Regions from separate parts of the Homo sapiens genome. Here regions 1, 2 and 3 are each reported to be linked to region 4. Evidence: microRNA targets listed by miRTarBase, many of them from high-throughput screens and not tested one by one. Region 4 holds a microRNA gene; each other region holds the end of a gene's coding sequence.
The links. Region 4 holds the annotated microRNA hsa-miR-892c-5p (UAUUCAGAAAGGUGCCAGUCA, at 4,855-4,875, opposite strand). A microRNA usually pairs through its seed, bases 2 to 8, with sites in the 3' UTR of a target mRNA and lowers its output. Matches are read on the target gene's strand: a 7mer-m8 pairs with bases 2 to 8, a 7mer-A1 pairs with bases 2 to 7 and ends in A, and an 8mer does both.

Region 1 (4,000 bases), not on the chromosome of region 4:
TTGAGGGTCACGTCTCCCAGAAGGGGCTTGCTTCTCCTTACTGCCATCCACATACACTCATTAGCCCTGGGAATCCAGCACAATTGAGAAGCTCAGACTGCAGAAAGCCTGATTTTTAAGGATGAGTCAAACTAGAACTGGAACTGGAACCTTAACAGCCAATACTTCTGCAATCTTATGCAGGTGCTTCTGAAAGTATTTACAACTAGAAAAGAACTACATAAAGTTAGGGAGTTATTAGATCTCTGTTTTTCCTTCCCTGAATAACTGACTTAACAACTTTTCTTTTTCTTTCTTTTGGTGGTAAATAGGTATTTATTTGAAATGAAAAAAAAATTACTTAAGTACCTGGACTATTGCATTTAATCATGTATTGTAATTGTGTTACTCTACCTTTTTGCATCAGAGACAAATATACAATGAACATTCAGATATCACAGACTGCACACTAGATAGTAATTCTTCAGGTCTTTTACATAACCACCAAGAAACAGATATTGGTTTCTGCAATATAGTATAAAAGTCCACAATCAATCCAGTCTTAGCCAGTATCTTCAATTTACTTCTGTTGCTGTACAAATAATTGGCCATTACTAGGGCTTACAAGTTAATAACAGGACAAAAAATATACATTGCACTGACACAAAAAGTCAGCTGTGTTAAGAGTCATGCAACAAGTAACCAAACTTGCTGAAATTAAAAATACTTTCTAAAAACAGTTTTAACGGCATAAATATTTTATACACAGTTCATTTACCAAAACAAAATGTATTTAAATGATACAAAGCAAAAATAAGTTTCTACCAACTTTATACATAAGAAAGTGCAAAATAACTTATCTAGAGTGTTTTGCTATTATCCAGACGGATGGCTGCTATGGGCAGCTATTCTCTTCTTCAAAAGCATGACATTAGAGTTGCACACTACATAGAAATGTTAGAATACATGGATGAACAAATGAACAGGTGGATGGATGAATGAACAAACTACAAAGATCAGGCAGGAGCCCTATGAGGTACTCTCAGAAAAAGAATGCAGACCATACTAAGGTAGATGTACATGTTGACAATAGATGTTGGTAAATAAATTTACATGGAACACAGAAAGATATCCAGAGAAATAATTAGTTTATGTATGTGAGTGTACTTGTATGTGTGAGTGATTCTGTTGATTTCTGCATTAGAGGCAAAAAGAAAAGAAACCCGATTGAACAAAACAGTTGCCCACAGCACCAGCTGCCAGAGGAAATACTACCATGAGGGTTTTGGTTTCCACCTTCTAGTTATGGAAGTTCTGTTAGAAAGTTAGTAATGGAAGTTGTGTCGGAAAGTTTAAAAGTGTTCATCCCATATAGTTTCCTATTACAAAGAGGAATAACCTTTAAGTAACTACACACACACATTCATATATTCAAGTCTTTAAAGAACACCTCTGCCACTGGGTATGGGGTAAACATGATTCATGGACAAAAGGAGGACGCTTCTTTTAAAAAGTGTAGAATAACACTGCTACAAATCATCTAGAGGGCCAGACAGGGGCAAGGCCCACAGTTACATAATAGCACAATTTCTGCAACTGTTGAACATCAGCATTATTTATTAGAATTGAAGATGGTGATGGGGGAGGGAGAGTGTGGGGGGAGTAAGACACAGAAAGGAAAACAGAACACAACTTTTCTTTAAATTAAAGTATTAATGCCGATAATCCTTTTATTAACAAGTATATTTGAACTTTTAGAAATGGAAGTGTTTTAATCAATTTTGATATGTAATCATAAATAGACTGTAGGCTCAAACCCAGGTAAATAAAGATTTAAATTTAGTAAGCGTAAGGCACTAAAGCAGCCTTTCTATTTTCTCTTGGAGACCTAGTTATCATATCAGGAAGAACAAATTTGTTCTTAAGCTGGTTTCAGCCCATCAGGTACAAGATCACCATTGTACCAAATGCCTATTTTTGAATGCATGTGCATATATGTGCATTTTAGTGCATAAGTGTGCCTCTCACCAGGGCCTAAAGATGGAAAATTGGAAAAGCCAAAGCCGCTGTCCTTTGCATGATGCCTCTGTGAGGGTGTGAAGGCCTTTCCTTTCGCACCTGTGAAGGTGTGAAGGCCTATCTTGGGCCATTAATGATTCTATATTTTTCAAATCACAGGGCTTTTAGAATTGTTCATAATGTTATCACTAAGTTTCTGAAAATGTTAAAATCTAGATTAATTGTTTCATTTTTAATATATATTATATATATATATATATGTACATAACACACATTTAAAAAAATCCCACCACCAAGCCTTTTCTCTGTAAACTAATCTCTTAGCCCCTTCCAGCTTTAATCCCCCTGGATTTGTGTGTTCTGTATCCAACTAGTAGAACAAATTAAATAACTAAATATTAAAATACTGTAATTATATTCATAGCAAAAACAAAAAAATAGACATTGATACAGTATAAATCTCACTGTTTTCAGGTAGATGACATTAAATGGTAAAGGTTAATTTTAAGCAGTTCTGACATGATTCAGTTTTACAACAAAGTTTATATGTTAATTCTGTACACTTCTTTCTTTCCTTTTTTTACCCCTTGTTTGAAAATAAGCTATAGTAGAACATTAGTGTCACCAAAGACACATACTTATTATGTTCTATGCAAGATAAGCTAATTTTGGGTTACATGCAAATATATTTCCATTAGTTGAGACAGGGCTGTTTCCTGCACTACACTGGTCATCTGACCACCTTTCTGCAATGCTAAGAAGGTATTCTTTGACCAAACAGCAGTCCACATACAAGTTTAAAAGGGGCCCTGTTTATGTAGGAACAACACTGAGGTGGTGCGTAGCCAGGTACAAGACGCCCAAATATTTCCAGTTTATCTTACGGCTGGACTCCTATTCTCCCACACTGTTTCCTAAAGAAGGTCCACATTATTTTGGTTACTAGCCTAGTTTAAGTGGAGATACTGTGGGCAACTTGAAAGAAATGACATCAGGCACACAGGCTGAGCTTGAAAGGAAAAAAAGACCACAGATAATGTCTTTGGGGATTTAAAAAAACATATTTATAATTAATTGGTAAGTGAGGGATGTCAGACAAACCATAAGTAGTTCATTGAGTTAGTGGTTTAGTTTGAAGTTTCATGTTACAGGCAGTTAAGTCCTTATTTAGAAAAAAGGCCTTTTATATCTATTTACAATATACATAGTTACTTGCAAAGAAGTCAGATTTACAACCATTTTCTAAAAGCCTTTTTTGTTGTTGGTTTTTCCAAATAAGGATGAGTAGCTCTATAAAAATGAGATGCAAGAAAAGAGAGTTAATAAGTGAGGATTTTTCTCTTGGAGACAGCTACTGTCATCAGGGAGAACTGGAGGTCGAAAGTGTTGCTCCTAGGAACCACCTCATATTCTTCTTGTGCTGTTCACCTGAATCGCGTCTGCCCCATTCCTGTACTCTACACCCGTTTTATTCAATGATCCCTTTGAATTTTAACACTTCAAACACGTGGTATGAAGAGATGTGTAAACGGAGACTGTTTTCAATGCCTTCCAAGCTGGGACAGGAGAATCGGGAAGGGGTCTACAGACCATGGTCTCCACTCAGCTTGTTGAATCTTCAACAATTTCGAGGCCCATCTTCTGAACCTCTCTCATGCTGTAAGTTATAATAACAGTTCTGACAAACACGCACCGGGGATGAGATTTTCAAGCGTTTGATTTCAGATTGAAAGCGACTGCACCTAAAGGAAAGGAAAAGTCAATTAATTATAGGTCTTCTCCATGCTTGATCATGGGCACCGGAAACATTAATAATCGAATGGAAAGCTTGCAGTAAAATGCCAAAGGCCATACTGGTTTGTGTTGTGTGGCTGAACAAGGACTAAAAGGAAAGCTGTATTATTTGTTTCAGTCTATGAAGAAAAGCAGTATTAAACCAGGGAAGCTATTTCTTTGACTGACAAGAATTAAAAAAACGAAAACAAAAAAACAGAGTTAAGAT
Region 2 (7,879 bases), not on the chromosome of region 4:
CTGGAGCTGTATCCTGCCCCGCAGGAAAGTTATGGTGCTGATGGTACTCTCTGCTGGAGCAGATTTGCTCAAATTAGGGCTGAGCTGATGAAGAAAGTGAGGCACTTAAGGCACCCCAAGAGGATCTTGTTCTGTACTGACAACTGCCCTGACCATGGCGACAGGTCATTTTATGACCTGGAGGCAGATCAATACTGCTGTTGAATGCCTGCCTATTTGGATGGGTATGTCAAACGCTTTCTTCTGGACACTTGGAAACTAAAACCTAGGTCTTAGGTACATCCTAAAGGGAGCACAGAACCCATCGTTTCACACATGGGCTCTGAAAGTGGGAAAGGAAAGCTGATCAAGCAGGGGCAGGACTTGGGGGAAATGTTGCCATGGATTCAATGGGACTTTGGGAACCTGTATCCTGTAGAGTCGAAAATGGGAATCTGAATGTCTAGAGTGGAATTCAGGCTTGAGAATACATGAGGGAGTTACTCTTGCATGGATGGTTGTAAAGAAACAATCAGAAATAAAGGAAAACTGAGCAGAATCTGTCTGGTGCCCTCTATTATTAAGTAACCTGTTTTCCAGTTTAAGCCTCAGGAATCTTCAGTTATTGATGGAAAAAACAAAAGGCACTGACTGAGTTGTCCAATCAATAAGATGCAGCCCAAGAAAATCAAGGCATTTAAATGAAATTTGGTTATTGTAACCAGTTTCCTCCCATTCTTTTATTTGAGACAGAGTTTCACTCTTGTCGCCCAGGCTGGAGTTTAGAGTGCAATGGTGCCATCTCAGCTGACTGCAACCTCCACCTGGGGTTTAAATGATTCTCCTGCCTCAGCCTCCCAAGTAGCTGGGATTACAAGCATGCACCACCATGCCCAGCTAATTTGTGTATGTTTAGTAGAGACAGGGTTTCCTCACTATGTTGGCCAGGCTGGTCTCAAACTCCTGACTTTGGGTGATTCACGCAAGTAGGCCTACCAAAGTGCTGGGGTTACAGGTGTGAGCCACTGTGTCAGGCTTTTGTTTTTGTTTTTGTTTTTGTTTTTTAAAGGTCTCCTGTCACTCAGGCTACAGTGCAGTGGCACAATCATACCTCATTGCAGCCTCAATTTCCTGGGTTCAAGCGATCTTCCCACCTCAGCCTCCTGAGTAGCTAGGACTACAGCTGTGTGAGCCACCACACCTGGATACTTTTTTTTAGTAGAAACAAGGCCTCGCTGTCTTCCCCAGGCTGATCTGGAACTCCTGAGCTTGTGATTCTCCTGCCTTGGCCTCCCAAAATGCAGGGAGTATAGGCGTGGACCACCACGCTTGGCTTGGCCTCCTCCAGTTCTTCACTTCTTTAGATGTCTGTTAACTCCTTGTTAGTTTCTGTGGCTGTTCAGTGGGTTAATACACACTAGGTGGACACCAAAGGCCTGGAACATTGCTGGGCAAGAACAGTGAGCCAATCCACACGGAAAGCACCTTCTTCTCAGCGTCTTTCACCGCTATCCAGATGCTGAGACCCTGCCCACTCCCTGTGAGTCTCCACATGCTTCCAGAAGCCTTAGTTGGTGGATGTCAGCTTCACTGCACAAGGAGCCAGTCTCTTCCCGCTGCCCTGGAAGGGGATGTCCATATTGTGTATTAGCTGGAGACTCTGGGCAGCACCAACCCTTGCTTGTTCCCCTGATGACCAGCAGCCCTTCTTGAATTAAACTTGTTGTAGCCAGTAAAGACAGCCACATTCCCTTTAAGTAAAATACTAAAACTATACAGGCATGTAACACTTTTTAAATATTTCCATCTGACATTTTAAAAGTTACATCTTTTTGGGGAGCTAGGTCAGATTGATGAGAGATTTTCTCATAACACCTTCCCTCTCTCCCTATGAAGGAAGTGACTAGTGCAGCATGTTCTGGAATCTGACATCATCAAAGGGTGGATAACGATCAAGTGCCTGTGGGTGATGAGTGACCTTCCCTGTGGTGAGGAAGCCTGCATAGTGGGCACCCAAGTGAAGGATCCTGCTGTGTACTCAGGGGCTGGTGTTGCTGTCAGGGATGTTAGCCTAGAGCCTCAGCTTCCTGTAAAATGAGGATGATGATATCCAACAGCTTATGGGACCTTGGTAGGATCCAATGAGATGGTTCATGTTTAGGGCTTGGCATGGGGTCTGGCATACAGTAAGATCAATACATCTTGTTCTTTTTTCTCTTCTCAGCAGAAGTCCCAGCATTTTTCATCTTTCAATCTCACCTCCTTTTCCTGATAATAGAGAGGCAACAAGAACTCAGGGCATGCAATGGGGCTCAACTTCTACTCTCTGCCACAATTTCATCATGATTCCCCCAAAGAGCAGAGCCCCAGGAGCCAGCAGGGGGCAGGGTGGGCATTTCTGGACTGGATTCATTCATAATAAGATCAAAATTTCCAATCCGTATGTCTCGGGTGCCATCTGCTGATAGATCGGACCAGATGGTATAATTGAGTGTTGCAAGGATTATATTTTATGGTGTTTTTAAAAATGTACTATTATGAGCCAGGTGCAGTGGCTCATGCCTGTAATTCCAGCACTTTGGGAGGCTGAGGCAGGTGGATCACCTGAGGTCGGGAGTTTGAGACCAGCCTGAGCAACATGAAGAAACCCCTTCTCTACTTAAAATACAAAAAATAGCCAGGCGTGGTGGCACACGTCTGTAATTGCAGCTACTCGATAGGCTGAGGCGGGAGAATCGTTTGAACCTGGGAGGTGGAGGTTGCGGTGAGCTCAGACTGAGCCATTGCACTCCAGCCTGGGCAACAGTAGCAAAACTCCATCTCAAAAAAAAGATAAAATAACATTTATTATTATGGCTGGGCATGGTGTCTCACACCTCTAATCCCAGCACTTTGGGAGGCCGAGGCAGCCTCGGGATGTTGAGACCAGCCTTGCTAACATGGTGAAACCCCGTCTCTACTAAAAATACACAAAATTTGCTGGGAGTGGTGGCATTCGCCTGTAATCCTAGGTATTCAGGAGGCTGAGGCAGGACAATCACTTGAACCCGGGAGGAGAAGATTGCAATGAGACGAGATCGCGCCACTGCTCTCTAGCCTGGGCGACAGAGCATGAAAAAAAAATTTACTATAGTGTGAATACTATTAGAGTATAACTATTTGTGTTGTAATTTATGTATATGAAAGATTAGAACTTTGAAAGAATGCAACGTGATATTTTAAGAATGGTTAATGGCCAGGTGTGGTGGTTCATGCCTGTATTCCTGGCACTTTGGGAGGCCGAGGTGGGTAGATCACGAGGTCAGGAGTTCCAGACCAGCCTGTCCAACATGATGAAACCCGGTCTCTACGAAAAATACAAAAAATTAGCCTGGCGTGGTGACAGGTGCCTGTAATCCCAGATAGTCAGGAGGCTGAGGCAAGAGAATCGCTTGAACCTGGGAGGCAAAGGTTGCAGTGAGCCGAGAATGCACCACTGCACTCCAGCCTGGGTGAAAGAGGAAGACTCCGTCCCAAGGAGGGTGAGAAAAAGAATACTTAACTTGGTTTGAAATGTCAAAACAAATGAGATTTTGAAAACTAATTTTAAAGACACTGAACAATAATCATTTCTTCTTTAAAATATATTTAGAACAATACAATTTTATCTTTGAAAGGAAACATTACAGTTTTTAAAAATCTTGAGTTTATTTCATTTTATTTTATTTTGAGACAAGGTCTCACTCTGTCGTCCAGATTGGAGTGCAGTGGCATGATCACGGCTCACTGCAGCCTTGACCTCCTAGGCTCAGGTGATCTCCCTGCCTCAGTCCCCCTGGTAGCTGGAACGACAGGCATGCACCATCATGCCTGGCTTATTTTTGCCAGGTTTCACCATGTTGCCCAGACTGGTCTTGAAATTCTGGGCTCAAGCGATCCACCTGCCTCGGCCTCCTAAATTGCTGGGAGTGAGCCCTTATAGGCATGAGCCACCGCACCCAGCCTTGAGTTTATTTATTTATTTATTTTGGAGATGGAGTCTCATTCTGTCATCCAGGCTGGAGTGCAGTGGTACGATCTCAGTTCACTGCAACCTCTGCCTCCAGGGTTCGAGCAATTCTCCTGTGTCAGCCTCCAGAGTAGCTGGGATTACAGGCATGCACCACCACACCTGGATAATTTTTGTATTATAATTATTATTATTTTTTAATAGAGACAGGGTTTGTCATTTTAGTCAGGCTGATCTCGAACCCCTGACCTCAGGTGATCCACCCACCTCAGCTTCCCAAAATGCTACGACTATAGACGTGAGCCACCACGCCCAGCCTATTTTTTTCTTTATAGCAGCTTTAGATTCACAGAAAAACTAAGCAGAAACTGCAGAGTTCTCATCTACCTTCTTCCCCCTTCAATACACAGCACCCCCACAGGATCAGCACCCACACCAGCACAGAGCATTCGTCACAATCAATGAGCCACAGGGACACATCATTATCACCCAATGTCCATAGTTCACATGGGGGATCATTGCTGGTTTTGTACATTCTATGGATTTTAACAAAGGGATAATGACACATATCCACCATTAGAGCATCATGGAGACTAGTTTTGTTCCCCTAAAAGTCCTCTGTCCTCTTCCCATTCATCCCATTGTACTCCCAACCCCTCACAACCACTGGGCTTTCTACTATCTCCATAGAAAAAGGCAAATGTCTAACAGGATGAGTCTTTTCACATTGCCTTCTTTCACTTGTACAATAACGTGCATTTAAGAATCTTTCATGTCTTTTTAAGGCTTCATAATAGTTCACTGACTGGATGGATCAGTTTGCTTATCCAGTCACTGACTGAAGGCCAACTTGCTAGCTTCCAGGTTTTAGTGATTATGAATAAGCTACTATAAACATCCAGCTGTGGGTTTACTCATTTCATTAAATATCCAGGAGCATGATTACGGAATTGTAGGGGTATGGTATGTTTTACAATGATTTCTTCTTTCTTGACAATCTCACTTGTTCGATATTGCTGCTAAAGGTCAGGAACTTTGTCTCAATCATCCTATGTTCCTACTGCTGAGCATGGAACGTGGCACTTGGTAGCAAATGCTGTTGACCACGTGATGCATGGAAACGTTTATCATGGGTATAGTCACTAAATTGCTACCTTGGCGACATCAACATTAGCTCACTACCAATAATATAAATAAATTGGATTATGGAAAAAATGGCCCTTGTGATACTGTGGATACTCCATGTGTATCATGAAAGTCCAGCAATTGACAAGGCACAGTGGCTCACATCTGTAATCCCAGCACTTTCAGAGACTAAGGTGGGTGGATCACTTCAGTCAGGAGTTTGAGACGACTCTGGCCAATATGATGAAACCCTTTCTCTATTAAAGACACAAAAATTAACTAGGGGGTTGAGCCAAGATGGCCGAATAGGAACAGCTCCAGTCTACAGCTCCCAGCATGAACAGTGCAGAAGACGGGTGATTTCTGCATTTCCAACTGAGGTACCAGGTTCAACTCAATGGAGAGTGTCAGAAAGTGGGTGCAGGACAGTGGGTGCAGTGCATCGAGCGTGAGCCAAAGCAGGGCAAGGCATTGCCTCTCCTGGGAAGGGCAAGGGGTCAGGGAATTCCCTTTCTTAGTCAAAGAAAGGGGTGACAGACGGCACCTGGAAATTCAGGTCACTCCCACCCTAATACTGCACTTTTCCAATGGTCTTAGCAAATGGCACACCAGGAGATTTTATCCCATGCCTGGCTCAGAGGGTCCTATGCCCATGGAGCCTCACTCATTGCTAGCAGAGCAGTCTGAGATCAAACTGCAAGGCGGCAGCAAGGCTGGGGGAGGGGCGCCTGCCATTGCCGAGGCTTGAGTACGTAGACAAAGCAGCCAGGTGGCTGGAACTGGGTGGAGCCCACTGCAGCTCAAGGAGGCCTGCCTGCCTCTGTAGACTCCACTTCTGGGGGCCGGGCATTGCCAAACAAAAGGCAGCAGAATCCTCTGCAGACTTAAATGTCCCTGTCTGTCTGACAGCTTTGAAGAGAGTAGTGGTTCTCCCAGCATGCAGCTGGAGATCTGAGAACGGACAGATTGCCTCCTCAAGTGGGTCCCTGACCCCTGAGTAGCCTAACTGGGAGGCACACCCCAGTAGAGGCAGACTGACACCTCACATGGCCAGGTACTCCTCTGAGACAAAATTTCCAGAGGAACGATCAGGCAGCAATATTTGCTGTTCACCAATATTCGCTGTTCTGCAGCCTCTTCTGCTGATACCCAGGCAAACAGGTTCTGGAGTGGACCTCCAGCAAACTCCAACAGACTTGCAGCTGAGGGTCCTGACTGTTAGAAGGAAAACTAACAAACAGAAAGGACATCCACACCAAAACCCCATCTGTACATCAGCATCATCAAAGACCAAAGGTAGATAAAACCACAAAGATGGGGAAAAAACAGAGCAGAAAAATGGGAAACTCTAAAAATCAGAGTGCCTCTCCTCCTCCAAAGGAATGCAGCTCCTCACCAGCAATGGAACAAAGCTGGATGGAGAAGGACTTTGATGAGTTGAGAGAAGAAGGCTTCAGATGATCAAACTACTCTGAGCTAAAGGAGGAAGTTCGAACCCATGGCAAAGAAGTCAAAAACATTGAAAAAAAAATTAGAAGAATGGCTAACTAAAATAACCAATGCAGAGAATTCCTTGAAGGACCTGATGGAGTTGAAAACCATGGCATGAGAACTACGTGACAAATGTACAAGCCTCAGTAGCTGATTCAATCAACTAGAAGAAAGGGTATTAGTGATGGAAGATCAAATGAATGAAATGAAGTGAGAAGAGAAGTTCAGAGAAAAAAGAATAAAAGGAAATGAACAAAGCCTCCAAGAAATATGGGACTATGTGAAAAGACCAAATCTATATCTGACTGGTGTACCTGAAAGTGATGGGGAGAATGGAACCAAGCTGGAAAACACTCTTCAGGATATTATCCAGCAGAACTTTCCCAATCTAGCAAGGCAGGCCAACATTCAAATTCAGGAAATACAGAGAATGCCACAAAGATACTCCTTGAGAAAAGCAACTCCAAGAAACATAATTGTCAGATTCACCAAAGTTGAAATGAAGGAAAAAATGTTAAGGGCAGCCAGGGAGAAAGGTCGGGTTACCCACAAAGGGAACCCCATCAGACTAACAGCGGATCTCTTGGCAGAAACTTTACAAGCCAGAAGAGAGTGGGGGCCAATATTCAACATTCTTAAAGAAAAGAATTTTCAACCCAGAATTTCATATCCAACCAAACTAAGCTTCATAAGTGAAGGAGAAATAAATTTCCTTACAGACAAGCAAATGCTGAGAGATTTTGTCACCACCAGGCCTGCCCCACAAGAGCTCCTGAAGGAAGTGCTAAACACGGAAAGGAACAACTGGTACAAGCCACTTCAAAAACATGCCAAATTGTAAAGACCATCAAGGCTAGGAAGAAACTGCATCAACTAACGAGCAAAATAACCAGCTAACATCATAATGACAGGATCAAATTCACACATAACAATATTACCCTAAAATGTAAATGGGCTAAATGCTCCAATTAAAAGACACAGACTGGCAAATTGGATAAAGAGTCAAGACCCATCAGTGTGCTGTATTCAGGAAACCCATCTCACGTGCAGAGACACACATAGGCTCAAAATAAAGGGATGGAGGAAGATCTACCAAGCAAATGGAAAACACAAAAAGGCAGGAGTTGCAATCCTAGTCTTGGATAAAACAGACTTTAAACCAACAAAGATCAAAAGAGACAAAGAAGGCCATTACATCATGGTAAAGGGATCCATTCAACAAGAAGAGCTAACTATCCTAAATATAGATGCACCCAATACAGGAGCACCCAGATTCATAAAGCAAGTCCTTAGAGA
Region 3 (8,071 bases), not on the chromosome of region 4:
ATCCCTGCCCTCAGGGAGCTTGTGGCTTAGCACAGGGTGTGGGCAGTTACATTGCAGGGGAATGGGCAGCTGGAGTAGGCGAGAAACTTGACCTTAGAGGACCCAGAAGAGGAGGCAGTGAGCTCTAGGGGAGAGACAGGGGACAAGAAGAAGGGTGTTCCACATCAAGAGAACCGCATGTGCAAAGGCCCAGAGGCATGGAGGAGCTTGGGCCGGAGGGGACCCTGGGGGACGTTCAGTGTGGCTGAGGTCCAGGGAAGTGGGGAGAGCCGACAGGGGCCACAGAACAAAGGATCATGGAAAGAGGGTCTTGGACATTATGTGGAGGGCAGGGATGGGCCCTGGAGGTACAGAGGGCTGGGCTCAGTGCTTGGAGAGGAGCCTTTGCCTCCTGGTTGCTCAGCTAAGCTTGTGGTTCTGTCTCATTCAGCCTGGGGGATGAGCCATGCTGGGGGCTGTCAGATTTGGCTATAGACAGTTTCTGGCTTCTGGATTTGGCTGCTGAGCCAGAGTTTTCCCTTGCTGGGCTGTGTCCCCAACTTTGCACCCAGAAAGTCTGCATTAAAGTGTCTCTCCCTCCTTCATGACCTTCTGTCCTCTCACTGTCAGGCCTTTCCGCCAGCTCCTAGGGACTTTTCTTGTCCATAACTCTCAAATTCCTGGGGCTTGGTGGGCGGCAGGGTGTGGTATGTGTGTGGCCAGCACAGGATTGTCTGGGCTTTCTTCCAAGTCCTTCCAGGCCTGAGCCTGCCTAGCTGTGAGGAGACTCAGTGTCCCCATGGGGCTGGCCCCTGAACCCACTCATCTAGACCAGCACTGGCCTGGCCAGGAGAACAGTGCTCTGAGCACTCAGGGGAGCATCCCCTGCCTCCACCGCATCGTCATTTGGCCACACACACCTGTGAGGTTCCAGAGCCACATTTCTTCCTGGTTGTGTCCCCTGATCCCACAAATCCAACACTTGGAAAGTTCTTAGAAATCAGGGCTAAGCTGTCATTGATCAGTGGAGGAGACTGAGACCCATGGAGGGGAAGGGTCCTACCAGGGTCGCCACTCTTGAGAGAGCTTTTCCTAATAAGGGCTAAAAGCCAGGCATTCTGGAGGCCAAAGTGGAGCAGTGGCCAGGGTGGGGAAGGAATGCCCACCCTGGCCACTCTGGAGTTAGGCCAGCTCGGAATCCCAGCTCTGCCACCTCCCCTGTGAGATCTGGGAATGCAATTAGTTTCTCTGAGCTGCGGTTTCTACATCTGCAAACTGGGGATAATAATAGTTCCCACTCCGTAGGGTTGCTGCAGAGAATAAATGCATAATGTGTGTAAGGAGCCCAGCACAGAGCCTGGTGCACAGAAAATGCCCCCAGGTGTTGGTTATGATCATGATCACTATTATGGTGATCATCATCATTGCTTTCCTCCATCACCTCCTTGTGATAACCAGTTCTGGGCAAGTAACATTCCTGATCAGAAAAGGGAACAGCCATGTAGTCATGCCCACCAGATGCCCCTCACACTTTACTGTGAAATGACACATTGCCATTGACCAGCCAGCCAGTGATCCTTGACCTGAACTTCAGGGAACTGGCTGTGTCAGCAGCAGTGAGATGTCAACCAAGTGCTAGAGGTGGGAGTGGGAGGGGGAAAGGGACAGACAGTCCTGATCTCCCACTGTGTATCGGGCACCCAGTGTGTCTGAGCCACGCACTTCTAGGCTTCGTGCATGTGAAGATTAAGCGCATGTGAAGTGCTTAGCCCGTGGCCCTGTGGGTAATAAGCAGTCAGCCACTATGGTCACGGTGACCTTGGAAAGGTAGAGGCAATGTGCTTTGGTAGGGAGAGCTTGCTGTGAGCCAGGCCTGGCCTCCAGTGCCAGGTCCTCCTCCTCGCTGTGTGCCCACGAGCTCACTCGCTTCCACCTCTTTGAGCCTGAGTGCCCTCCTTGTAAAACAGAACGTTGGAACTCCCTCACGGGGCTATGGTGCGGCTTCCGTGAAATCAGGCACAGAAGGTGCAGGGTGAAATGCCCAGAAGGCTTTTGCTGCTGCTGTTGTATCTCATTGAATCTCTCTGATTCTCAGAGAGAGATTTTGTCATCCTTGTTTTAAAGATGAGGAAACAGGCTCAGAGAGGTGCAGTGAGTTGCCCAAGGTCCCACAGCAAGTCAGTTGACAGAGCCAGGATTTAAACTCAGATCTGGGCCCTGAGTCCACCCTTCTTCTCTGTGCCTTTGAGGTTCTCTGGGGGGCAGCAGGGTGGGGCAGGCCCCCAGCTCAGCCACCTCCCATGCCCTCCTCTTGCAGGTCATCCTTTTTCAGTACTAACGCTGCCGGCACTTCCGCATCTGCCCGTGGGCGCCCCACAGCTGCCCCTCAGCCGCTGAGATCCAGTGTCCAAGCTGCGGCCAGGAGTCCACCCACCTCCGCATCCACCCCCGTCCGCCATCCTGCCCACCACCAGGTCGGTTCCCGAGGCCTGGCCTTTCCCTCTCCTGCTGAGAACCAGAACCCACCAGGAGCACCACAGAGTCCTCCTCTTGGAAGGCAGAACTCCCTGAAATCTGGAATCAGGGTGGAAACAGCCTGTTTTTCCCATTTAAACAGGAGTCCTCTTCAACTTCAGCTGATTACAATAACAAAAGGCGGAATTGAATTGTGCGATGCCAACGGCCTTCTCATTTACAGGTTTTTTTCCCCCACATTGGCCTTTATTTACTACTTCCTTGGAACCATCTCTGAATTCTGAATAGCTGACAACCCCCAATGTTATCCACTCTGTTGCTTTTGTCTGGAAAACTCTACAGTGTTTGTGGGATGTCCCCAAAGGAAAGCTATGTTCTAATTTTATCATTTCCATCTGTCTGGTTATGTCAAGTTAATTCAGAAAGAGAAGAGACAGTGACCAACCCTGAGAGGCCTAATAGGGCAGAGATGGAGGCCTGCCCAGACTAGGAGGCAGCGGGGATAGACAGGGAATGGGGAGAAGAAAGACCCCCATTGGTTTGGAAATCAAGGAGAGGGCGGTGACATATTGGACCAGAAGAGGCACTAGCCATTTTAAGGAGAGGAAAGAGAAAACTCTGGGGTCAGGGAGAGACCCTACCCCCACCTAATTATCCAGCATATATGTAAGAAACATAGCAGCGATGGTATTCGATCTGTGCCATGACTCTTCTGAATGTTTGGACAGGTTAGAGTTGGGGACCCCTGTTGGCCACTTGTTGACCTCTCATAGTGGTGCTTGGGCCAGGTCTTCTCAATGGAAGGGGAATCCCTTATAGGGGAGAGGGAACAGAGCCCAGTGAAATGGCAGTCAGAATGTTAACCCTGGATCCATCTCTAAGTAGAGAGAGGGTGCCCATTGCCTAGGTGAGTGTGCCAAGCTCAGGATTCCAACTGGTGCCTCTGAGCTTCCCAATCAATACTTCCTGGAGCCAGCCCCACCCACCCCTGAGAACAGAGGTCAGACACAGCTGCGTAACATCCATCCTGCTACAACTCTTCCACCCCAAACAAAAGGGCTCAGGCTACACACGACCATGATTTATGTTTTCAGGGGATGCCCATTTGTCCCAAGCTTATCCTGTAATTCTAGAATTACCTGGTGTCCTGATGCATTTTCCACTAGAGGTTGCTAATCAGCATGTTTTAGCCCAAGTCCGCCTTCCTGCTGTGGTTAACCTGTTATGTTGCTTTTGGAAGGAGACTCTAAGACAGGGAAAGCAAGTTCATGGTACATACGCAGCCATTGTCTCTGTTTTTACCCATGGCAGACATTGCTAATCAATGGCAGCTCTATTTCACTGAGTCTGGATAAGGTTTCAGAGTTCAAATGCTTGACGTTGGCACTTAACATGAAAGCCTATAGGTCATTCTTGCTCTGGGATCTACAGGCAGGGTAGGCACAGGTGCAGCCTAAGAAGGGAACCTGCTTCCTCTCCCTTCCAAAGACAGTGACAGCTGACTGAGGGCAAAGAGCAGGCACCACTCAGAACGTGGTGAGTACAGCTCAGCTCAGCACTCAGTCAGTGGTAACTTGTGCCCAGCCCTGTGCTAGGCGCTGACATTAACAGGAGCAACCAGGGCCCAATTCCTGGCCTTGGAGCTCAAATCTTTCCTTTGATTTTTGCTCCTGATCATCAAGGCCCCAGTGGCAACCATGTGGTAAGTGGCCAACCAAGCCCTACCCAGGGTCACCCAACACACTCTGCCTTGAGCCTCTCCTCAGGGTCTATTCCTTGCGTGGATTATGTGGCCGTAGCATGTTACAGTTCAAACATGTCTCCACTACCCTGTTAAGAGCAGCCTGGGAACGTACAGGCCATCAAGACTATTTATTTAAATACAAAAAAAGGGGAAAACACACACACGGAAAAAAAATTGTAAGCACTTTTTTTGTAAAACCAATGTCTGTTTTGTTACATACCTTTCATGTCGTGCTTTGTAAATGTCTTATTTGTGTAATAAAGTTAATGCAAGTAGAAGTGCTGGCACTGAAATCCAGAACATGATGGGATTCCATTTCTTTCCTGCTCTCTGGTGAAGGGCTTAGGTCCCTGGCTCCCAGAATATGTGGGCTGCTGGACAGTGTAATCCTCCTTCCTGGGAAACGGGTACCATTTCCCAGTTAGTAAACAATGGATTGTGGAGGCCTGACGATGGGTTTCTTCTGTAAGTACTCAGTCACACCTGCTTCTTATCTAAGCTTTGGAGGAAATCAGGCTGCTTGATGCCCTCTGTTCCAGTCTCTGAACATACACTCTCTGCTGGGCCCTGTGCTGGCTCTGCACACTGAGAAAAGGCTCCCAGCCAGACCTTGTCCTGGAGGAGCTCTCAGTCTGGCAAATACTGTGGGAGCCAAGGGGGTGGGTGTTAAAGCTGGATCCTATCAGATGAGAAGGTCACAGAATAGGTAAGCAAGAGGGTGGGGCAGGGAGGGAGGTGCAGAGGAGCGTGTTTGGAAGATGGGGAAGAATTTAATAAGGTGAAGTTAAGGGAATATGGAACGGGCAGCAGGGCCCCAGGTTCTGCACAAGACTGGGTCTTATAGTGGTTTTGTCAGGCTCCAGAGCCACCACCTCATAACCTGAGGAGTGAGAGAGCGCATCTTTTTGGTGGTTGTCAAATTTCTTTCAGCAGCAGAGTCATTTGCTCAAGCCAAAGCTCCTGGTGTGGAGAGCACAGCTGCCCTGCAGAATGCAGAGGCTTCCCTGGCCTGCTGTGGCCCTGCACAGAAATGAGTTGCTCAGAAACCTCAGCTCATGGTGCACATGAGTCACTGACTGCAGGGCCCCTCTCTCTATTCTACTAGTTTTTAAATCTCCCATCCCTGATTCCATTTCTGCTCCTCATACATCTGCTCTTCCAATCCATTTTCAAGTGTTTAGATATATGTGTATCTTTGAAAATATATGAGTTTAGTTGTGTGTTTCTTTACATGAATGTACCTTCTGTTTTCAAAATACAGTTTGGAAACCACCGGTGGAGCACAACCCTATCTACCAAGGTGACTGGCGTCTTGGGGAGAGGTGATCCTCCCAAGTCTGCTCCCTAGCGCAGCTGAGAGTGAGCCCAGGCCTCCCTTCCCGCTGACTCCTGGCTCTGCCCCAGCATGACGCCTCTGGGTCCCTAGTTTGAGATCCAATTTCCTCTCCTGCCTTCCAAGCCTGACTCACTGTTCTGCCTCCACTGGGCAGCCCTGGTGAGCCAGGGGACAGAGCATAGGGGGTAACAGGATCTAGCAACCTCTAAGGAGGAACAGTTAGACAAAGATCCAGGATGCATATGGCCCATATGTGGCCCTGGAACATGTTGTCGCTTCCTCTTCTGATTTTTAGCTGACAAATGTGACCTCTGGGATGATTTTGAGGAATGATTATATGCACCACTAACAAGTTGTTCTTTAAAGCAAACACATATTGAATACCTACTATGCGCCAGGTCCCCTACTTGTATTATCTCATTTAACCACACGGCTACTGTATTGTTTTAAAGCATTATTATAACCATTTTTTATATGATGCCAAAGCCACATTCTTTTTTTTTTTTAGACAGAGTTTCACTCTGTCACCCAGGCTGGAGTACAGTGGTGAAATCTTGGCTCACTGCAACCTCCACCTCCCATGTTCAAGCAATTCTCATGCCTCTGCCTCCCAAGTAGCTGGGAATACAGACGCATGCCACCATGCCCGGCTAATTTTTGTATTTTTAGTAGAGATGGGGTTTCACCATGTCGGCCAGGCTGGTCTCGAACTCCTGGCCTCATGTGATCTGCCGGCCTCGGCCTCCCAAAGTGCTGGGATTATAGGCGTGAGCCATCACACCCAGCCTCCAAAGCCACATTCTTTCTATGGCACCATGCTGATTCTGTGCTTAGGATGTGAGGTTCAAATGGGGGAGCTGGCAAGAGGGAAAGACAGGCCTGAGTAATCATTCTTGGGCCTAACAAGCTTGTCCAACCCACCTTATTTTGTTGTTGTTGTTTTTGTGTTCTGTTTTGTTTTAGGCTTTCAGCAGCCTGAAGCCATGGTTTTTAGTTTCTGTCTCTAGTGATAAGCAGAAAAGAGGGATGAGGAAGGGGCTTCACTGGCCCAACCAGAAACAGAAACTAAGAACCCATGACTGCTGCAGGACTGGGCACAGTGATCAGGTCCTACTGCCCTCTGAGACCAAGCAAGTCACTCTGTCTCTCTGAACCTCAGATTCCCCATCTGCAAAAGCCTTCCCCTTGCAAGGCTGTTGTGAGGAGCAGAGATAATGCACACGCACTACCTGCGCCGGTTAGTGCTCAATTACATCTATCTATTATTATAAAGAGATGGTTCTCAAACGTTCAGATGCATGAGAAATGCTGGGAATGCAAATTACTAGGCCCCATTCCCAGAGATTCTGATTGGGAGGTCTAGGGTGGGGCCTGGGAATATCTATAGCTCACAATTTTGTCCAGGTTAAATGATGCCCACTGAGGAACAATCTTTTAAGGAAAATACACCTGGGGCCACTGACCGCAGAAAGTCTTTATTCCTGAGTTAAAATCAGGTTCTAGAACTACAGCCCGTCCCCCAGGGCAGCCAATGCTAGTAGGGCAGATGGAAACCTCTGGTGGAGGCAGCCACAGAGTTCACGGCTCGGGCCTGTGACCCACGATCTCATCCTAGCCCTTTCGACAGGTACGGGTGATCCACTCATGCTCGTCATCATCTGCAAGGAAAGAGGAAGAGCTGGTCATGCTTGGTGCTCGCTGGGACCTTTCCTGGCCTGGGGGGTTCCCCAGGTGGGGCGTTGGGACTGGGATGGTCCGTCGATGGCCAGTCTGTGTAGTTTTGTGTGGGGAGGAACAGACCTTTCATTTACACTGAATTCCTCGGAGTGGCTGGTCTTGGGGAAATTGAACACAGAAGGGTTTCTAACTGTGGGTGCTGCTGGCGGAGGCAAGCATGAGGAGTCTGGCCACCCTAAGCTGGACTCATCCTGACAGGCAGAGAGCAGCTGCTTCACAGTCGGGCACTTGCCTGGTCTGACAGCCCACGCACGACAGCCCCAGGACAGTGGGTCTAGGCCTTGCCGGTGGTGCTAGGAGACAGAGTCCTGAGATCTTCATTTCCTTTCTAGGCTCTCCATTCTTGACCCTTTCAAGAACCCATGGTTTCTCCAGGGGACTAACACCCTCTTGTTTACTCCAGGCCTTTCAGTGGGGAACGGAGAGGGGCAGGAGCTCGCCGCTGTGCCTGAAAGCCCTAAACGCAGTGTCTCCTTAGTTTAATCTTCGTGACCAACCACGCAATGGGCAAGCCTTCACCACCGTTTTACAGATGAACAAACAGAGGCTCACAGAGGCCGAGGCACTTGTCCACAGCCACAGGGTCAGTATGTGGGAGAGCTCAGACTAGAACCTAGGATTGTCCAGCTATAAAGCCTGTGCTGTTTTTTAAACCTCAAATAAAGAGACTTGAGTGAATCACATTCAGTCCACAGCACGCTGCCATCATCTCTCTGTGCAAGACCCCTCCGTGGATTTACTTTATTTTCATTTTTCCTCCTTTCTCCTCCAAACCCATACCGGGCCCCTCCTCCACCACT
Region 4 (8,071 bases):
AATAAATTTATAACATCTATTCTACATATCTACAAAGAACATAGCATGACTTTCCTGAAGTAAACAAAAACTATGTCATGCTCCCACGTCAAAAGATGACTGAGTTCGATTCTGTAAAGATTTTCAGTGTGCACACATTTCCTCATTGCAAAAGCAAAGTCAGAAAGATAAATGTTACACTTAGGGAAATCCGACAAAGCAATGATATTTTTAATGCCTAAATGTAAATTAAATAGATTATCAAGGAAAATTCTCAACAAGGAAGAATAAGAAGTATCATTCAAAGTTAGAAAATTAACACGTGGAGTGCTATGGTCTGAATTTTATGTTTTACGTACAATTCGTGTGTTGAAACCTAAGAACCAATGTGATGGCATTAAGAGGTGGAGTTATTAGGCAAATTATTAGGTCATAAAGGTGGACCCTGCATGAATAGGATTAGTGCCCTTATAAAAGAAGCCCCAGAGAGCAGCCTTGTCCCTTCTGCCATGTGAAGTTACAGCAAGAAGATGGGCTCTTGACAGACAATGAATCTGCTGTTGTCTTGATCTTGGACTTCCCGGCCTCCAGAACTGTAAGAAATAAATATCTGTTTATAAACTTCCTGGTGTATGGTATTTGTTTATAGTAGCAAGAATGGATTAAGTCACGGCTTTACTTCCCCAAAAAACTCAAAAAGTCTGCTAGGAAATAATTATGTGTTGCCATGATATATGGGAAAACACATAAATAGTTAAAAATATCTATCCCTAGTTTATATCACTAATCCTAAATTAAACCCCACTAAGTAGTGAAATTTTGAAACTTAAACTAGAAAAAGCATTTCATGAGGAAAGATGTCAATGTTTTCACATTTGTTATATGATATATATGTATACATCTTTCATATTATGCAGAACTCAGTGAATGTTCCCATTTGTTGGACAATGAAGGCATATTACACGTATCAGCTTCTCTAATAGTGACTTAGTGTAGATATTACACTATGGTTTCAGAAAAACAGAACCAATCAGTGGTGCGTGTATGAAGAGAGAAGGCGGAAAGAAAGAGAGGGAAAGAGGCGAGGGAAAGGGCAGGGGAGAGAAAGAGAGAGAGACTCAGAGAGACAAGGGATTTATTCTAAGGAACTGGCTCACAGAGTTGTTGGAGCAAGCAAGTTCAATCTCTACAGAAAAGGTTGGCAGGCTGAAGATCATAGAAGGCTTGATTTGGCAACTCAAGTCTAAAAGGCAGCCTGGTAGTAGAATTCCTTCTTCCTTTGGGGACCTCAGTCTTTTCCTCTTAAGGCCTTCAACTCACTGGATGAGGCCCATCCATATTATAAATGATAATCTGCTTTATGTGAAGTCTACTTATTTAAATATTAATCTCACGTAAAATTTACCTTCACAACAACAACATGACTGGTGTTTGATCAAAACTGGGTATCATAGCTTAGCCAAGTTGACACATACAATTAAGCTTCACATACATGTTTGTTTAAAATGAGAAACTGGATTTAAATATTAACGTACCATTGAGTGAATGCTGTTAAAAATATATATGGAATATAAAAATTTGTCTGTATATATCTCTTGGATTCACCGGTTATTGTGAGGAAAAACTAAATTTATAATTAAAAACTAATTTAAAAAATATCCCAAATTCTTTCTCTGAGGTCACAGTTAAGTCTCTTAACCACACTCTCACCAATGCTTCCCACCTGTATGAAAATTATCAGTTTTAATTGAGTAAAACTGTAATTATTAAGCATTAATAATGACTTAATGTTAACTTATCTACCAGTCTGGGTATTTATATCATATTCAAGGATTAAATTCATCTTCGATATACCAGGTCTTATAAAATTGTTACTATCTATATATGATAGATTTGTTATTAATATAGGCAAAGAGATATATGTTAATTTTTTTTGTAACCTAGATTCTGACAGACACACTAGTGATTATATTCACATACCACTTACATCCATCGCTGTATAGGCAAATTCCTCACAAGCAAATGAAGCCCTGCATTTAAGTGAAAATTAATTTCATTCACGCTAGGGAGTCTGGGAGCTAGGTGATTAGGAGACTCAAACATATCAACTTGAAGCAACCTTGTTCCACATGATGCAAAGAGAATGTTGCTTATTTTACAACTTTGAATTCACAACATCACATGCATTCCCCAACTAGTGAAATTCAACAGAGTGACCTTATAAAAGGAGATAATGAATTTCTGGAATACTAGAAACCAAACCGTACGGTCACCATAAAAAGCAATTATTCAAAGAGTATCATCATGTATGACAAAGAGATGGTGAGTTCAAAGCAACTGAATGAGCTGATGAAACCCTGCAGTATCATTTGAAATTGCAGCTGAACTATTAGAAGCCATTAACCTCTGCATTCCCCAGTGTGTCTTCTTAGAACTTCAAGATTTGAATTGAATGAAAACAAACATGTCTATCTAAGCAGGGATATACATAAAATGTCATACAGAACGAGCAAATTAAAAAATAAAGATAATACATATTCAATAAGTATATGAAACAAAATTGAATCACCACATCCTGGAAATTACAGTTGAACATGAATCTCTATATATTCTTGCCACATGACAAATAAAGCTGTGTGGCAAAAACTTACCATATCTTTTCCAGATATCTACAAGGAAAGCTGGAAATTTTTCCTGCAAAACCCCAAACCTGGATTGGTCATCTAATTCTATTATTAGAAGAGGAAGAAGATCATTTAGGGAAATTATTTTCTTTCAGTTGAGATTAACCCCCAGTGGTCCACTGGCTACCCTTAGAGTCTAAAGGTCTTGAGGACACCTTAGGTCCAGATGGCTCTCAGGACTCTGCTGGGTCTAAGAAAGGCAATTCAAGAGTGATTACAGTTCCACTTCCATCACCAGTCTGAAGGCCATCACAAACTTGTACTTACTCTACCCAGAAAGGACCCAGTGACATGTAATCTAAGTGACTGGCACATTTCTGAGTAGGGAACTTCCCACAGCATGGCTAATTGTGGAGATGCTGCCCCATCTTGCATGTTCTCTCCCTGTAGCTTTCATCACTCCTCCGAGCATAGCATGATGCCTGAACCCTGAACTTATTTATTCATTAGTCCTAGAGAATGCCCAAGCCCACTACCCTCCAACTTGCATGTATGCCTCACTGAGGACCCTCTCACTTGCTCTATGTTTATCTGGATGATTTCCAGGACCAGGAGAGAACAAGTTTGTTCCTGATTTCGCTTCTTCTTTTGGGAAATATCTTTATCTTCTGTATCCCGTAGGTGTTCACATTGTAGCAAACGACCATGAAACTTATTTTGAGGATGACTGAGTTCTAGCTAACCACCAAGGATCTCCTGAGATCAATGAGGACATCTCAAGGTGCCTGTAACTCTATACCCTCACCAGTCTGAGGGCCACCACAAACTTGTACTTCGTGACTCTTATTCCACCCAGAGAAAAAACCAATTACATGTAATCTAAGTTACTGGCACTCTATTAGTCAATTGTCATGCTGCTAATAAAGACATACCAAAGACTGGGTAATTTCTATTGAAAAAAGAGGTTTAATTGACTCACAGTTCAGCATGGCTGGGGAAACCTCAGGAAACTTGCAATTACGGTAGAAGGGGAAGCAAACACGTCCTTCTTTACATGGCGGCAGGAATGAGAAGTGTTGAGCAAAGCGGGTGAAAGCCCCTTATAAAACCATCAGATCTTGTGAGAACTCACTATCATGAGATCAGCAGCATGGGAGTAACCGCCCCCATGATTCAATTACCTCCCACTGGGTCCCTCCCATGACACATGGGGATTATGGGAACTATGATTCAAGGTGAGATTTGGGTGGGGACACAGCCAAACCATATCAGACACCTTTCTGGGAATAGCCCTGAACACAGCATGGTCGAAAGGGGAAGTGCTGCCCCATCTTGCATTTTCATACCCTGCAGCTTTCATCACTCCTCTGAGCACGGTATGATGCCTGAATCCTGAACTTATTTATTCATCAGTTCAAAATAATGCCCAGCCCACAAGCCCCCAACTTGCATGTCTCCCTCAGTGCCCTCTCACCTGCTCTATGTTTACCTGGATGATTGCCCAGACCAGGAGAAAACAAGCTTGTTCCCGTTTTCTATTCTTCAACTAGGAAGTATCTTCATCTCTTCTATCACTTTCTTCTTTAACATGATGGAGTCTACATCATTAGGAATGCACCAGTAGAATTATCTTGAGGATGCCTGAGGTCCATGTGGCCAAATAGGATCTCCTGGCATCAGGGAAGGCAGCTCAAGGCCCTTGGAACTCCACATCAGGGGTCTACAGGCAACTATATGCTTGTACTTGGTAAGCCTTAGTCCACTCAGAGAGGAACTAGTTACATATAATCTAAGTGACTGGCACCTTTCTGGAACATATTATGGACGAATGGGGAGGGGCTACTCCATCGTGCAATGTGAATCCCCATCCTAGAGAATGTCCAGCCCACTGCCCTCCATCATGTATGTTTCCCTCAGCAAGAGCACTCTCACTTGGCTTCATGTTTACCCAGATGGTTGCCAGGACCACGAGAGAACAAGCTTGTTTTTCTGTTCTTCTATTAGGAAGTATCTTCACGTCTTCTATCCTTCTCTTCTCTATCATATAGGTATTCTCATTATTAGGAATGAACCACTGAAATCATCTAGAGGATGTCTGAGGTTCAGGTGGCCAGCTAGGATCTCCTGGCATCATTGAAGACAACTTAGGGCTCCAGCAACTCCAACTCATCGCCTGTCTGAAGACCACCACACACTTGTACTTGGTAAGCCCTACTCCACTCAGAAAGGAAACAGTGACATGTAATCTAAGTGACTGGCACCTTTCTGAATAGGGCACTGCCCACAGCACGACTGATAGTGGAGGTGCTGCCCCATCACCCACCATCACGCACTGCAGGTTTCATCACTCCCCTCAACACAGCAGGCTGCCTGAGCCCTGAACACATTTATTAAGTCCTAGAGAAGTTCCAGCCCACTGCCCTCCAACTTGGCATGCCTGCCTCAATGAAGACCTTCTCACTTGATTTATGTTTCCCTGGATGATGGCCAAGACGAGAAGAAAAAAAATCTTGTTCCCGTTCTCTCTTCTTCTTTTAGGAAGTATCTTTATCTCTTCTATTATTACCTTATCTAACCTGTAGGTGCTCACATTGTTAGAAATGGATCATTAAAATCATCTTGAGGATCCCTGAGTTCCAGGTGGCTTCCAAATCTCTCCTGGGATCAATGAAGGCAGTTGAAGGTGCTTGCAGGTCTGTCTCCTCACCAATCTGAACGCCATCACAAAATTGTACCTGGAGAATCTTGCTCTACCCAGAAAGGAGCTGGAAACATCTAATCTAAGTGACTGACCCCTTTTGGAGTAGGGCACTGCCCACAACATGGCTAATTGTGGGGGTGCTGTCCCATCTTGCATGTTCTCCCCCTGTAGCTTCCATCACTCCTGAGCACAGCATGATGCCTGAACCCTGAATTTATTTATTCAACAGTCCTGGATCATGTCTAACCCACTGCCCTCCAATGTACATGCCTCCCTAAATGAGGAACCCCTCACCTGCTCTATGTTTACCTGGGTGATCGCCAAGACCAGGAGAAAGCAAGATTGTTCTCATTCTATTTTTCTAGTAGGAATTATCTTCATCTTGTCTTTCTCATCTATAACCTGCATGTGTTCATGTTGTTAGGGACAGACGATTTAGAATATCTCGACGATGCCTGAGGTCCACATGGCCAACTAAGGTCTCCTGGTATCAGGAAAGGTACCTCAAGGCTCTTGAAACTCCACCCTATCATGGGTCCAAAGGCCACTACAAACTTATACTTGTTGAGCCTTACACTACCAAGGAAGAAACCAGTGATGTATAATCTAGGAAACTGGCACATTTCTAAGTAGGACACTGCACACAGCATGTCTGATAGCGGAGGTGCTGGCCCATCTTGCAAGGTCAACCCCCGTCCAGGAGAATGTCCAGTCTGCTGCCCTCCATGACGCATGTCTCACTCAATGAGACATGCTCACTGCTCCATATTTGCCCAGATGGTTGCCAGGACCATGAGAGAACAAGCTCGTTTTCTGTTCTTCTATTAGGAAGTATCTTCATTTCTTCTATCTTTCTATTCTCTGAAAAATAGGTATTTCCATTGTTAGAAATGCATCATTGAAATCACCTTGAGAACACCTAAGGTTCAGGTGGCCAGCTAGGATCTCCCGGCCTTACTGAAGACAACTAAAGCCTCCAGCAACTCCACTGCATCACCTGTCCGAAGGTCACCATGAACTTGTACTTGGTAAGACTTACTCTACTCAGAAAGGGAATAGTTACATGTAATCTAAGCAACTGATGCCTTTCCAAGTAGGGCACTTCCCACAGCATGTCTGATTGTAGAGGTGCTGCCCCATCATCCACCATCGTGCACTGCAGCTTTCATCACCCCACTCAACACAGCAGGATGCCTGAACCCTGAACTTAATCTTAATTCCTAGAGAATTTCCAGCCCACTGCCCTCCAACTTGGCATGCCTGCCTCAGTGACGACCTTCTTATCTGATTTATGTTCACCTGGATGATGGCCAAGACAAGAAAAGATTGTTCCTGTTTTCTCCTTTTAGGAAGTAACTATCTTTTCTGTCATTGCCTTCTCTAATTTGTAGGTGCTCACGTTGTTAGAAATGATCATCTTGACGATGCCTGAATTCCAGGTGGTTTCCAAGGTTCTCCTGGGATCAATGAAGGCAGCTCAAGTTGCTTGCAGGTCTACCCCCTCACCAGTCTGAGGACCACCACAAAAGTGTACTTGGTGAGCCTTCCTTCACCCAAAGAGGTGTCAGTCACATGTAATCTAAGTGACTGACAGCTTTTTGAGTAGAGCACTGCCCACAACATGGCTAATTGTGGAGGTGCTGTCGCATCTTGCGTGTTCTCCACCTGTAGCTTCCATCACTCCTCTGAGCACAGCATGATGTCTGAACCCTGAACTTATTTATTCATCAGTCCTGGATCATGTCTAGCCCACTGCCCTCCAAGGTATATGCCTCCCTAAGTGAGGAATCTCTCACCTACTCTATGTTTATCTGGATGATTGCCAGGACCAGAAGAGAGCAAGATTGTTCCCATTTTCTATTTTTCTAGTAGGAATTATCTTCATCTTGCCTTTCTGATCTATAACCTGTAGGTGCTCATGTTGTTAGGGACAAGCCACTTAACTTATCTTGAGGATGCCTGAGGTCCACATGGCCAACTAAGATCTGCTGGTCTCAGGGAAGGTACCTGAAGGCTCTTGCAACTCTACACTATCATGGGTCCAAAGGCCACTACAAACTTATACTTGGTGTGCCTTACTCTACCTGGAAAGGAACTAGTGACATATAATCTGGGCGACTGACACATTTCTGGGCAGGGCACTGCACACAGCATGGCTGATTGTGGAGGTACTGCCCTATCTTGCACAGTTATACCCTACAGCTTTCACCACTCCCCTCAACACAGCATGGCGCCTGAACCCCGAACTTAACTTATTCATAAGTCCCAAAGAATACCCAGCTCATTGCCCTTCAACTTGCATGCTTCCTTCAGTGAGTACCCTCTCATCTGCTTTGTTTAGCCAGATAATTACCAAGACCAGTAGTGAACACACTTTTTCCAGATTTCTCCTCTTCTACAAAACATATATTGATCTTTTATCTTTTGCTTCCTTAACACATAAGTGCTCATATTGTTTGGTGTGCACCATCGAAATCATCTTGAGGATGCCTGAGGTCCACGTGACCAACTAGGATCTTCTGGCATTCGAGAAGGCAGTTGAAAGGCCCCTGACGCTCCACTGCATCAGGAGTCCAAAGGCCAGCCAAAAGTTGTGTTTGGTGATATTACTCCACCCAGAAAGGAACCAGTTACATATAATCCAAGTGACTGGAACTGTTCTAGAAAAGGCACTGCATACATTATGGCTGAATACGGAGGTGCTGCCCAGTCTCGCATGGTTGCTCCCAGCAGCTTTCATCACTCTCCTAAACGCAACAGAATGCCT

Region 1: miRTarBase lists WDFY3 as a target of hsa-miR-892c-5p. Seed matches in the 3' UTR shown: 7mer-m8 at 426-432.
Region 2: the mRNA of PRAMEF11 is a reported target of hsa-miR-892c-5p. Seed matches in the 3' UTR shown: 7mer-m8 at 434-440.
Region 3: miRTarBase lists LHX6 as a target of hsa-miR-892c-5p. Seed matches in the 3' UTR shown: 7mer-m8 at 2,727-2,733, 8mer at 2,734-2,741 and 7mer-m8 at 3,166-3,172.

Annotation. Positions count from the first base shown.
Region 1 is chr4:84,669,252-84,673,251 of GRCh38, forward strand. It overlaps WDFY3 (WD repeat and FYVE domain containing 3), which reads right to left. Exons shown (of 68, transcript NM_014991.6): 68 at 346-3,740. The coding sequence ends at 3,617. Among named protein-coding and RNA genes, the nearest start is that of CDS1, 88 kb to the left of the region's middle.
Region 2 is chr1:12,817,267-12,825,145 of GRCh38, reverse strand. PRAMEF11 (PRAME family member 11) reads left to right here. Exons shown (of 4, transcript NM_001146344.3): 4 at 1-541. The coding sequence ends at 204. LINC01784 (long intergenic non-protein coding RNA 1784) reads left to right here and starts at 1,923. Exons shown (of 2, transcript NR_146629.1): 1 at 1,923-2,110; 2 at 2,207-2,460.
Region 3 is chr9:122,199,006-122,207,076 of GRCh38, reverse strand. It overlaps LHX6 (LIM homeobox 6), which reads left to right. Exons shown (of 10, transcript NM_014368.5): 10 at 2,297-4,495. The coding sequence ends at 2,317. MORN5 (MORN repeat containing 5) reads right to left here. Exons shown (of 5, transcript NM_198469.4): 5 at 6,994-7,192. The coding sequence ends at 7,146. Among named protein-coding and RNA genes, the nearest start is that of LHX6, 26 kb to the left of the region's middle. RefSeq lists a silencer at 7,006-7,218.
Region 4 is chrX:145,987,942-145,996,012 of GRCh38, forward strand. MIR892C (microRNA 892c) reads right to left here and starts at 4,885; the gene lies at 4,809-4,885. It overlaps MIR890 (microRNA 890), which reads right to left and starts at 6,410; the gene lies at 6,334-6,410. MIR888 (microRNA 888) reads right to left here and starts at 6,919; the gene lies at 6,843-6,919.